2 separate regions of the Homo sapiens genome follow, and region 2 is linked to region 1. Evidence: fine-mapped expression QTL. A gene starts in region 1. The other region holds a variant in brackets. All regions are shown on one strand. Distances are from middle to middle.

Region 1 (5,360 bases):
CATGCCTGAGCTCGGGAAGCATGTTCAAAATCTTTTTTTTTTTGTTTGGTCCCGCCTTTCTGGACCAAACCAATGGATATCTTAAATGTATTTCATTAATGCCTCATGTCTCTCTAAAACATGTAAAACCAAACTGCCCCAACCACCTTGGGCACATGTTCCCAGGATCCCCTGAGGGCTGTGTCACCGGCCGCGGTCACTCATATTCGATTCAGAATAAATCCCTTCAAATATTTTACATTTTAACTATTCTTATCGACAGTACATTTTTTAAAATAAGAATGGCCCTGAAAGATGTCCACCTCCTAATCTCCAAACCTGTGGTGTTACCTTAAGTGGCAAAAGGGACTTTGCAAATATTAAGAATATTGAGATGTGAAGGCTACCCTGGGGTGTCTGGGCGGCCGGCATATAATCATGAGAGTTCTTATGCAGAGACAGTAGGTTTTGAAGATGGAAGAAGGTGGCCTCTAGAAGTTGGAAGAGGAAAAGAAGCAGATTCTCCTTGGGAAACTCCAGAAGGAACTACCCTTGCCAACACCTTGATTTTAACCTCCTAAAACTCACTTCGGGCTTCTGAGCTCCAGGCCTATAAAACAGCCTGTGACAAATTCGTTATAGCAGGGATGAGAAAATAGCTCACTGCAGCCTCCTCTTCCAGGGCTCAAGTGCTCCTCCTCCCTCAGCGTCCCAAGTAGCTGGGACTACAAGCGTTCACTACCGCAACTGGCTAATTTTTTCTATCTTTTGTAGAGACGGGGGTCTCACTATTTTGGCCAAACTCAGTATGTTGGTCGCAAACTCCTGGGCTCAAGAGATCCGCCCGCCTCGGCCTCCCAAAGTGCTGGGATTACAGGCTGCAGCGCACCCAGCCTAATGTAACTTTTTTTTTTTTTTTTTTTTTTTGAGAAGGAGTTTCGCTCTTGTCAGCCGGCTGGAGTGCAGTGGCACGATCTCGGCTCACCGCAACCTCCGCCTCCTGAGTTCAAGCCATTCTCCTACCTCAACCTCCCAAGTAGCTGGGATTATAGGCGCCTGCCACCACGCCCGGCTAATTTTGTATTTTTAGTAGAGACGGGTTTTCACCATGTTGGCCAGGCTGTTCTCGAACTCCTGACCTCAGGTGATCCGCCTGCCTCTGACTGCCCGGCCCAGTGTAACTGTTAACGGCAACATCGTGTGCAGTCTCCGGCTTGCATTCGGTTTAGTCAGCCAATCGCTAAGACGACACTTGAGACCGTTTTCAGATCTTTAGGCTTTCCACCATCCTAGAAGGGGGCCTGCCTGGTTCTAAGGCCCTTCTGAAACACTGCCAAACTGTCCTCGGGAAACGGTGCAGAAGTCCTCTGGTTTCCCCCAAGGCGCGTGGGCACCTTGGCTGGAACCTCGCCCAGTAACACGACGTGCCTGGGGCCCCTTCGTCATTTCCGCCAACCCCGGTGACAACCCTGACACCGGCCCCTAAGTGCCATTCCAGTTATGTTGCTCTCCTCCCCGCAGCCCCAGGCGGCAGCTTCGCGGCCCGGCGTCCGGTCCCCCGGTGGTCCCGGAGCGAAGCTCCGCAATGGAGAGCGGAGGACCCTCCCTCCCCGACCTCGCACGACCAAGACCGCCCACCTTTCCCCCAACGCCCGGCTGTGGGAGCCGTTCGAGTCTTCTCCGCCAGGGCGCTCCTTCCCGGGAGGCCGCTTCTTTGGGGGAATAAGGTCAAGGATTACGGGATTTGGGGAAGCAAGCTCGGCTGGGCCAGGATTGCTTGCGTAGCTCGCTGGAATCTAAGGCACTAGAGGGCTTGACGGCCACGTGAGGACGAACCACGCAGGCGCAGCCCCGCGCCCCGGGCAAGGACTTCCGGCAAGCCCCAAAGGGGAGCGTGCACCGCGATGACGTCCTCAAGGCGCGCCACGTCCGCCCGGCGGCGCAGCTGCCCAGCGCAACCTCGGCCCCGCCTCGATAGCCCCGGACCCCTGCCCCGCCCGACCCCGCCCCGCCACGGGAGCGCGCCACTCGCCCGCGCAGCAACGGCCTCAATAGCGCCAGGCCCGCGTCTACAAGAAGCCCGACCAAGGCCGGCGTGGGCGAGGCCTGGCTAGACGCTGACGCACCGCTGGAGCTACTGACCTCGGGACGACTGGCGGACGGTCGCGGGCCTGGAGACCCAGAGCGAGACGGCCTACTTCGTTCTCGAGCCAGCAGAACGGGTTGAACGTGTCGACAACCCCACCCGCCAGTCAGCGGCGCGGGCGTGTTCGAGCCGGCTCGTGGGCGTGGTCAGGTGCGTGGGCGGGGACTACTGGGCGGGGCTCGGCGCGGGGGCGGGGCCTGGCGGGAGTAGTCTCGGGGTCGGGGCGGGGCCCGGCGGGCGGGGCTCGGCTAAGCACAGTCTTGGCGCAGCGGCGGGGCCTGGTGGGGCGTGGCTCGGTGAGGGAGGTCTCGCTTGGGGGCGTGGTCTCCCCCAGTAGGCGGGGCTTGGTGCCGGGGGCGGGGTCTGGCGGGCGCGGGCGCGTGTGCGTGTTGTGGGCCTCGCACTGGCACGCAAGTCTCAGCAATTCCTGAGAATCCTCGGAGGAAGAGGCCGGGGCCCGGTGCGGCAGCGCCTTGGGGGCGGAATCGCAGGCGCGGGTCGGGCCTTGCTGGGGCGCGGGGCGCGGCCCCCGGAGAAAGCGGCCGCCTCGGGACAGGAGGGACCCGGGAGAAACCCCCCTGGGGCGGCTCCGCATGTCGGGGTCGCGACTCTAGGCGACCTTGGTAGAGGGGCTCGTTTGCGCCGAGCTCGCGACCCCCGAGGGAGCCACGGCCCCGTGAACCACGCTGCCCGTCCTGGCCACTGGCTGCCGCCTTTGTTTCGTGGGACCCCAGCCCGCAAGGCCTGCGGAGCCGCGGCCTCGTCCCGAGTGTTCTGAGCGCGGTCCGAGCTGCTCCTGCGTCCACTCTGCTGCCGACACCCGAGCGTCGCCTGGAGCCCTGGCACTGAGGGGCGCAGGCCGAGTTCCAGACCAGCCTGGGAAACGCAAAGCGACCCCACCTCCACAAAAGTGGGTTTTCTTTAAGTTTTTGACTAGTCCGCAATTCACAGAATTGACATTTTGGCAGATGAAGATTGCAAGTAAGGAAACTAACGGTATCTCAGATTTGTTCTTTAGCAATTTGCTAAACCTCTCCTCTGACTGCCTTTATTAGGTATTTGTTTTCGAGACAGGGTCTCACTCCACTGCTTAGGCTGTACTGCAGTGGCGCGATCCCAGCTCGCTGCAGCCTCCACCTCCCGGACTCCAGTGATCCTCCCGCCTCAGCCTCCCAAGTAGCTGGTACCACAGGCGCCAGCACGCCTGGCTAATTGTTGTATTTTATGTAGAGAAGAGGTCTCCCTGTGTTGCCCAGCCTGGTCTTGAATTGGGCTCAAGTGATCCTCCTGCTTCAGCCTCCCATATCGCTGGAATTACTGGCATAAGCCACTACACCCGGCCTGATCATCTTTAAAGAAGGTGGTTCTGGCCGGGCGTGGTGGCTCACACCTGTAACCCCAACACTTTGGGAGACCGAGAAGGGTGGATCACCTGAGGTCAGGAGTTCAAGACCAGCCTGGCCAACGTGGTGAAACCCCATCTCTACTAAAAATACAAAAATTAGCCAGGCATGGTGGTGGGCACCTGTAATTCCAGCTACTTGGGAGGCTGAGGCAGGAGAATCGCTTGAACACGGGAAGCAGAGGTTGCAGCGAGCCTAGACCACACCATTGCACTCCAGTTCGGGCAACAAGATGAAACTCTGGCTGGGCGCGGTGGCTCACACCTGTAATTCCAACACTTTGGGAGGCCAAGGCAGGCAGATCACCTGAGGTCAGGAGTTCAAGACCAGCCTGGCCAAGATGATGAAACCCCATCTCTACTAAAATTACAAAAACTTAGCCAGGCATGGTGGTGCATGCCTGTAATCCCAGCTACTCAGGAGGCTGAGGCAGGAGAACCACTTGAACCCAGGAGGCAGAGGTTGCAGTGAGCCAAGATCGTGCCACTGTACTCCAGCCTGGGCAACAAGAGCGAAACTCCATCTCAAAAAAGAAAAAAGAAACTCCGTCTCAAAAAGAAGGTGGTTCACACACACACACACACACCCCCAAGAAAGCTCAGGGCTGGAAGGCAGCCAACCTGGCTGTGACCCTCATCCTGCACACGTGAGCTTGGTGACCAGTAGCTGATTCTTTAACTCTCTAAGCTTTGGAGTCTGGATGTGAGGTTTAGAATTCATGACAAGAAGCTGGAAGGATGCCGCCAGTCTGACTCCTGGACTGGTTCTCTTGACATCTTTGCAAAAGCTGCTGAAATGTTCTGGTTTCATTTCATTCTTTTCTTTGCCATGATCTCTTAGATTTGTTCGTGGCAATTCTCATAAGAGTGAAGAAAATGTTTAAAATGGCTGTTGGGCTCCCTTTTGTGACACCTTGTGGGGAAGGTGCCCAGGTATGTATAGGTGCTGAGCGCACGGCCAGCATGGTGTCTGTGGCCGGGCCTCCCTCCTGGACAGTGCGGCCACAGCCCCTGAAAGGTATGTCTTCATTTTTATTTTATTTTATTGAGATGGAGTCTCGCTCTGTCGCCCAGGCTGGAGTGCAGTGGCGCGATCTCGGCTCACTGTAAGCTCCGCCTCCCAGGTTCAAGCCATTCTCCTGCCTCAGCCTCCCGAGTAGCTGGGACTACAGGCACCTGCCACCACGCCCGGCTAATTTTTTTTTTTTTTTTTTTTTTGTAATTTTAATAGAGACAGGGTTTCAGCGTGTTAGCCAGGATGGTCTCGAGCTCCTGACCTTGTGATTCGCCCGCCTCAACCTCCCAAAGTGCCTGGCCTTCATTTTTATTTTTGAACTTACCTGCCTCACCTCGTTATGTCTTTATCTTATTTTTAAACTTACTCAGTTCACCCACTGTGGAATTGGGAGTATATGGAAGTATTCCCACCCCCAGTTTTATATACCGCCCCAGAGCTGACCATTCTCGCTCATTTCCCCGGGTCCTGGCCGACTCGAGTGTGCCTTTCCTTCCGATCCTGCTCCACACAGATCTGAGGGATGCTGCCCTTTCCTTCTCCACCTGCCCCTCCCTCACATCCAGCCCCACCAGCCTACACGTTAGCTTAAATAGGGAGCTTTTACATTCCCCATGAAAGGGAATCCAGGGACAGGCTGAGGCAAGAGACCCCCAGTGTTCATGAGATGCCATCTAGAGAAAACACCGTGGTGCTGAAGGCCTAAGTCAGACCCCGGGGAGAGAGGCACCAGGGTGACTTTGGGTGGAGAGTCCTGTGCCTGTTCTACTTCTATAAATATACTCAGGTCAGGCACGGTGGCTCACGCCTGTAATCCC
Region 2 (5,360 bases), 56 kb before region 1:
TAGGCTGGTCTCGAACTCCTGACCTCAAGTCATCCGCCCGCCTTGGCCTCCCAAAGTGCTGGGATGACAGGCGTGCGCCGCCGCGCCCGGCCTGCCTAGCATAATGTTTTCAAGGTCCAGCTGTGCTGTAGCATGCGCATGCTTCGCTCCTCTATGGCTAATAACATGCCGCTATTATCAAAATGCTGCAACTAGGAGCGCTAGTGTGTAAATTTGGCGTGGACACTTGTTTCCAGGTTTGAGGAGCTGCCACATTGCTTTTCAGAGTGGCTCAGGAGCTAATTTTTTTGCAGGGTACCATGTCAACAATTTGGGTCAACTAAAATCAGCGTGTCCGCACCATTTTCGCCCGCCCAATTTCACGCGATCCTGCGAAAGAATGACCCAGACCGGTCCGGGCGCGGTGGCTCGCGCCTGTAATCCCAGCACTTTGGGAGGCCGAGGCGGCAGATCACAAGGTCAGGAGTTCGAGATTGGCCTGGCCAACATAGTGAAACCCCGTCTCTACTAAAAATACAAAAATTAGCCGGGCGTGATGGCGGCCGCCTGTAATCCCAGCTACTCGGGAAGCTTGAGACAGAAGAATCGTTTGAATCCGAGAGGCGGAGGTTGCAGTGAGCCGGGATCGCGCCATTGCACTCCAGCTCGGGCGGCAGTGCGAGACTCCGTCTCAAAAAGGAATGACCCGGGTCGCATGGGGTGAAGGGTCGGGAAGCGCCCCAAAAGGAGAACGGGGCTGGGCTCCGGGATCCGTCGGCGAGGAAGGGGCGAAGGGGTGGAGGGACTCGGGCCAGGCCGCCGGGGATGTCTGTGGTTACCTCCAAGCTCTGGAGGCCTTGGCGAGACCCGCGCCATCCGCAGCTTGGTTCCTGCGACCTCAGCCGCAGGGCGGTCCGGCTCCGGTTTCCCAGCAACCAGGCGTCATCCTTCCCAGCAAGCACTGCGTCCAACCCGCGACGTCGGACCACAAGGCCCAGCATGCCCCGCGCGGACTACAAGCCCCACAATGCACCGCACACCCTTTACTGGCCGGCCCCGCGCTGCTCTCCTAAGACCCCGCGGGCCAGCGCCGCGACCCCTTCCCAGCGCTCCTCGCGCTGTGTGCGGCGCGTCCTCTCGCCGGTGACCCGGTGTGCGTGGGGTCGAGGCGCCGGGCGGAGTGGCTCCGGGCCGAAACGCCATGCGGAGGGGCGAGCGCAGGGACGCCGGAGGTCCGCGGCCCGAGTCCCCGGTGCCCGCGGGCAGGGCCTCGCTGGAGGAGCCGCCTGACGGGCCGTCTGCCGGCCAAGCCACCGGGCCGGGCGAGGGCCGCCGCAGCACCGAGTCCGAGGTCTACGACGACGGCACCAACACCTTCTTCTGGTGAGGGCAGTGGGCGGCCGCGGGGCGGCGAGGGTGCCCTCGACCTGGGGGTTCCGGCACCGCTGGCCTGGGGGTCCCCGGCAGCGCCCTCTCGCCGTCTTGGAGTCCAGGACTGTGGCCGGGGGTTTGAGGGTGTGGCAGCACCGCCCCCCGGGTCCCGGGGAGCGGCCGGACCGAGCTCCCGACGCCGGGTCGGGCGGAGGGCGGCGCTGTAGGTGGGGGAGACCCTGGGCAGACCCTCCCTGCGGCCGCTTTGCGTCTCTCTCGCCGCCCTCCCCACCCCTGCCCGCCTTGGCTCTGACCGCGCGGTTCTGCGATCCAGACCCCTTCCCCGCCACCCGCCTCCAGCGTCACCCCAGAAACGCTTTCTCTGTCCTGCTGTCGAAGCTTCACCTGTGTCCCCCGTCATTCTGCCTGTGGTTGCTCCTCAGTGCTTGCGGCTGCACGAAATCATCTTGTGTGTCGCGCCCGACCCCACGTGGCGATCGTGTTGATTAGCAGAGTGTTGTGCGTGCTTCAGGAATGTAGTCGGTGTTCGTCGAATCCAGGCTCTGTTTCTCTCCTCAGTTGCCCCTAGCGGGGCCAGCGCCTCCTCCCTGCACAACTCAGCCCTAGCTACACCTTGGGGTCCCCCTGTCCGCCACTCTGCCTTTAATGGGGGTGGAAAAGGAAGAGGCCCCCGGGAGCAGCTGGAGTGTGGCACTCTGTGTCCAGACAGGCTCCAGGTGCCGCTCCTACTCCCGACAGCTGCGACCCTGGGCTGGCCCTTTGCCGATGCTCCTCTGTGAGAAGGATCAAGCCGTCGACCTGAAAGCAGGCTTCGTGAGAGGAGGGTTTGGCTCTTCTTGACTGCAAGGTGCCCAGTTCCCATCCTGTGGAAGGCCCGGGGGCACAGGGGCAGTAGAGGTGGGGTCAGCCCCAGGAAAACGTGTGGGAGACAGGCGCCTGCGGCCAGCAGTGGAAGGAAGGCTTTATGGACGCTTCCAAGAGAACCATGCTGTGGGATGGTCGGAGAGCAAATCTGAGGGGCGAGGAGGGCCTGATGGAGGAGTAAGGGACTTGTCAGGGGAAGGCGCCACCACAGACAGGGACTTAACCGGTCCTGGCCTGTCACCGCAGCCGAAGCTCTGGAGAGAGACTGTCCAAGTGGTGGGAAAGCAGGTTAGGGTGGAGGAGGCCCCACGCAGGGTCTTCCGTGAGGTGTGGGCAGCTGCTGTTGCAGGGAGGGCATCCGAGCT[C/G]TCCTTTGGGGAGATGAGTGTACCGGGTGGCTGCGGGGCCCTCGGGAGGGAGAGGAGATGGGGTGCCTGCCACGTGGACCCTCTGGCTTCCGGGCCCTGTGGACATCAGGCCTCTCCATCAGGTGCCCTGCCACACCCCTTCAGGCTGTCCTCCCGCAGCACAGCTGGGGACCACCGGAGTCTCTGAGGTCCTGGAGCAAGGAGACCAGACTGGCTCTTCTGAGGTCCCGGAGCAAGAAGACCAGACGGGCTCCTCTGACATCCCGGAGCAAGGAGAACAGACGGGCTCCTCTGAGGTCCCGGAGCGAGGAGACCAGACTGGCTCTTCTTGTTTCTCATTTGGCCGTTCAGCACATTGTGGGGACCCCTACTGCCTGTCAGTTACCGTTCTACGGGACATAGCAGAGAACTAAACAAGAAGCTTAGATTCTGGTGCAGGCATGGAACTTCAGAAGGCTCAAAATGTGCTGGCTGGGTGCTGAGTGTGGCAGGAGCCAGGGGGCACATGCAAGCCTGCGCAGCCCACCCAGTACCAGGGAAGCAGGAGCAGCAGCCCAAAGGTAGGAGGGGGCCGGTCTCTTTAGAAGCCCAGACCAGTGGTCCCTGCCCACAAGGGGTGTTTGGGACACAGACGGCTGGGCGCAGCAGAGCTTGCCTGTCAGGAGGCCAAGGGGGTCAGGAGGGCTCTCCAGGAGCGGGTGCAGCGGGGCTGGCTGGTCCAGGTACCTCCTTCCTGGGTCTTCTGGGTGGGTGGCTCTGGCTCTGGCTTTCCCCTCGACCCTGTCCCTGTAGAGACGCATGGGGCAGGTTCTTGCTGTGCCTCCTCCCTTCCCTGTGCAGAGGAAGGAGCTTCACGCTTCTGGGTGGCAGGTAACTCAATGCCTGCCTGGTGAGAATTCATTACCTGCAGAGCCTCACACTGACCTCCTGAGTCCACCTGCACTGACTTGCTGTGCTGGCATTTTTTTAACTCTAATTTTGTGTTTTAGAGAGTTTTACTTTTTATTTTTTATTCATTTTTATTTATTTATTTATTTTTAATAGAGGGTCCCCCTGTGTTGCCCAGGCTGGTCTTCAACTCCTGGCCTCAAGTGATCCTTCCGCCTCAGCCTCCCAGATTGCTGAGATTACAGGCATGCACCACCACATCCAGCCAGGGCGTTCATTTTCAAGGATGGGTGCACTTCCTCGGGCCAGTGACGGCGGCCATGTGTGAATTTTGTTTCTCTGTGACTGCTTGTCAGCCATAGGGATAGGGCGTGCGGTTCGATTCAGGGCTTGACTGGCCCTGGGAGCACGAGGCTGAGCTCTCCTTCTCTGGATTCATTCAGGGTAGCAAGGACAATTATGGGGAACATCCAGAGGAAAACGTTTAGATCCACAGACTCCGAGAAGCCCTGTGCGAAGATGTGGCAGCTCATGCGGTCTGGAAATTGTTTGGGAGAACACTTGGGGACCCCTTACCCTGGCGAGGTGCCTGTGAACGTTGCCGCCTGTCTGTGGGAGACGCTGAAGCAGCTTCGGATGACCACACTTGCTAACCAGTTCCCGAGCTGGGGGCCACTGTGATGTTCTGAGAGTTTTTATTGTATGCTTGTGTCTTGGAATGGGGTGCCTCAAATGAGCCTTCTCAGTGACCTGAGGACTTTATGTGTGAGGTGACCTCTGACCTTCAGATACCCCAGGTTTCTGGAAGATGCCTTTCTCCATCATCCTGGATCGGGGCTTTCCCAGCTTTGCCTACACCTGGGAGGCGCGAGTAGCCAGATGAAGTCTTTCTGGTCTTGCTGGTCAGAGCCAGAAGGGCCAGTGCCCGGTCCAGGAGCCTCTCGCAGGCCTTGGGCTGCCCATCCAGGCGTGGCCTTTCCTTGGCCCTTTGGACGACGACGCCGCGTTTTCCTCTTGGTCTCGGCCTCCCTGCCCACCATGAGAGTGGACATGAGAGTGACCATCTCCAAGGAGGCAGCTGGGTCTTTTCCACTCCCCATGGCAGGGAGCCAGCTGTCTTCACGCCCTCACCCTAGTGAAGTGGCTGAATTGCCAGGATTGATCACAGCTCTGTTCTGTGTCTGATCACAGGACATACACCGTCCTGCAGAGTCTGCAGGCGGGTGGGAGGAGCCATTGAACAGACCTGGCGTCCTGGGAGGGACACGGAATTCTTCCCTTGAGAGTCTCATGCTATCTTGAGCGGCACTCTGTCACTTCCAAGATGTGTAGACGTCGTGCTGCGTGTAGGACAAGGACTGGAGCTCACTAATACGGACCTTACTTTCCAGGAGCGTTGGATTTGAGCAGCTCTGAGATGTGTCCTCCTGCAGGGCTGCTGTGCCTGGTGCCCTTTCTCTGGGTCCCTTACCCTCTGCCTCCCTTCCTGTTGGGTCCTCTTCATTCCCATTTCTGCTTCCCCAGGGCCAGGAGGGTGCTGGGCACTCGGTGGCCACCTCAATGACAGTGTGCACATTTACCTGAAGGGGCGAAGGGTTACCTTTATATTTCAGGTAATCTCTGTGTTTTGGGGAAATGGAAAGATGGTGTTGGGTTAGGGTTGATCAATGATCAGCGTTTCCCTGGGCTACACAAGGAGTGAGTGTTGGGTTGGTGGCCACTTTAGAAACCACAGGAAGGTCTCTGTCGTGGAAAGTCGTATTAAAGGAGTCAAGTTTTACGCCTGTAATCCCAGCACTTTGGGAGGCCGAGGCAGGTGGATCACGAGGTCAGGAGTTTAAGACCAGCCTGGCCAATATGGTGAAACCCGGT

Evidence for each region.
Region 2: its variant is fine-mapped to the expression of RNH1 in cerebellar hemisphere (GTEx, PIP 0.97).

What each region holds. Positions count from the first base shown.
Region 1 is chr11:504,992-510,351 of GRCh38, forward strand. RNH1 (ribonuclease/angiogenin inhibitor 1) reads right to left here and starts at 2,251. Exons shown (of 11, transcript NM_203387.3): 1 at 2,122-2,251; 2 at 1-5. It also overlaps a transcript of LRRC56 not described here. RefSeq lists an enhancer at 1,520-1,689 and a cis regulatory region at 1,605.
Region 2 is chr11:449,276-454,635 of GRCh38, forward strand. PTDSS2 (phosphatidylserine synthase 2) reads left to right here and starts at 1,004. Exons shown (of 12, transcript NM_030783.3): 1 at 1,004-1,362. The coding sequence starts at 1,181. RefSeq lists enhancers at 504-1,190, 789-1,068 and silencers at 1,099-1,338, 1,529-1,588, 1,599-1,688. The variant C/G (reference allele first, on the strand shown) is at 2,601.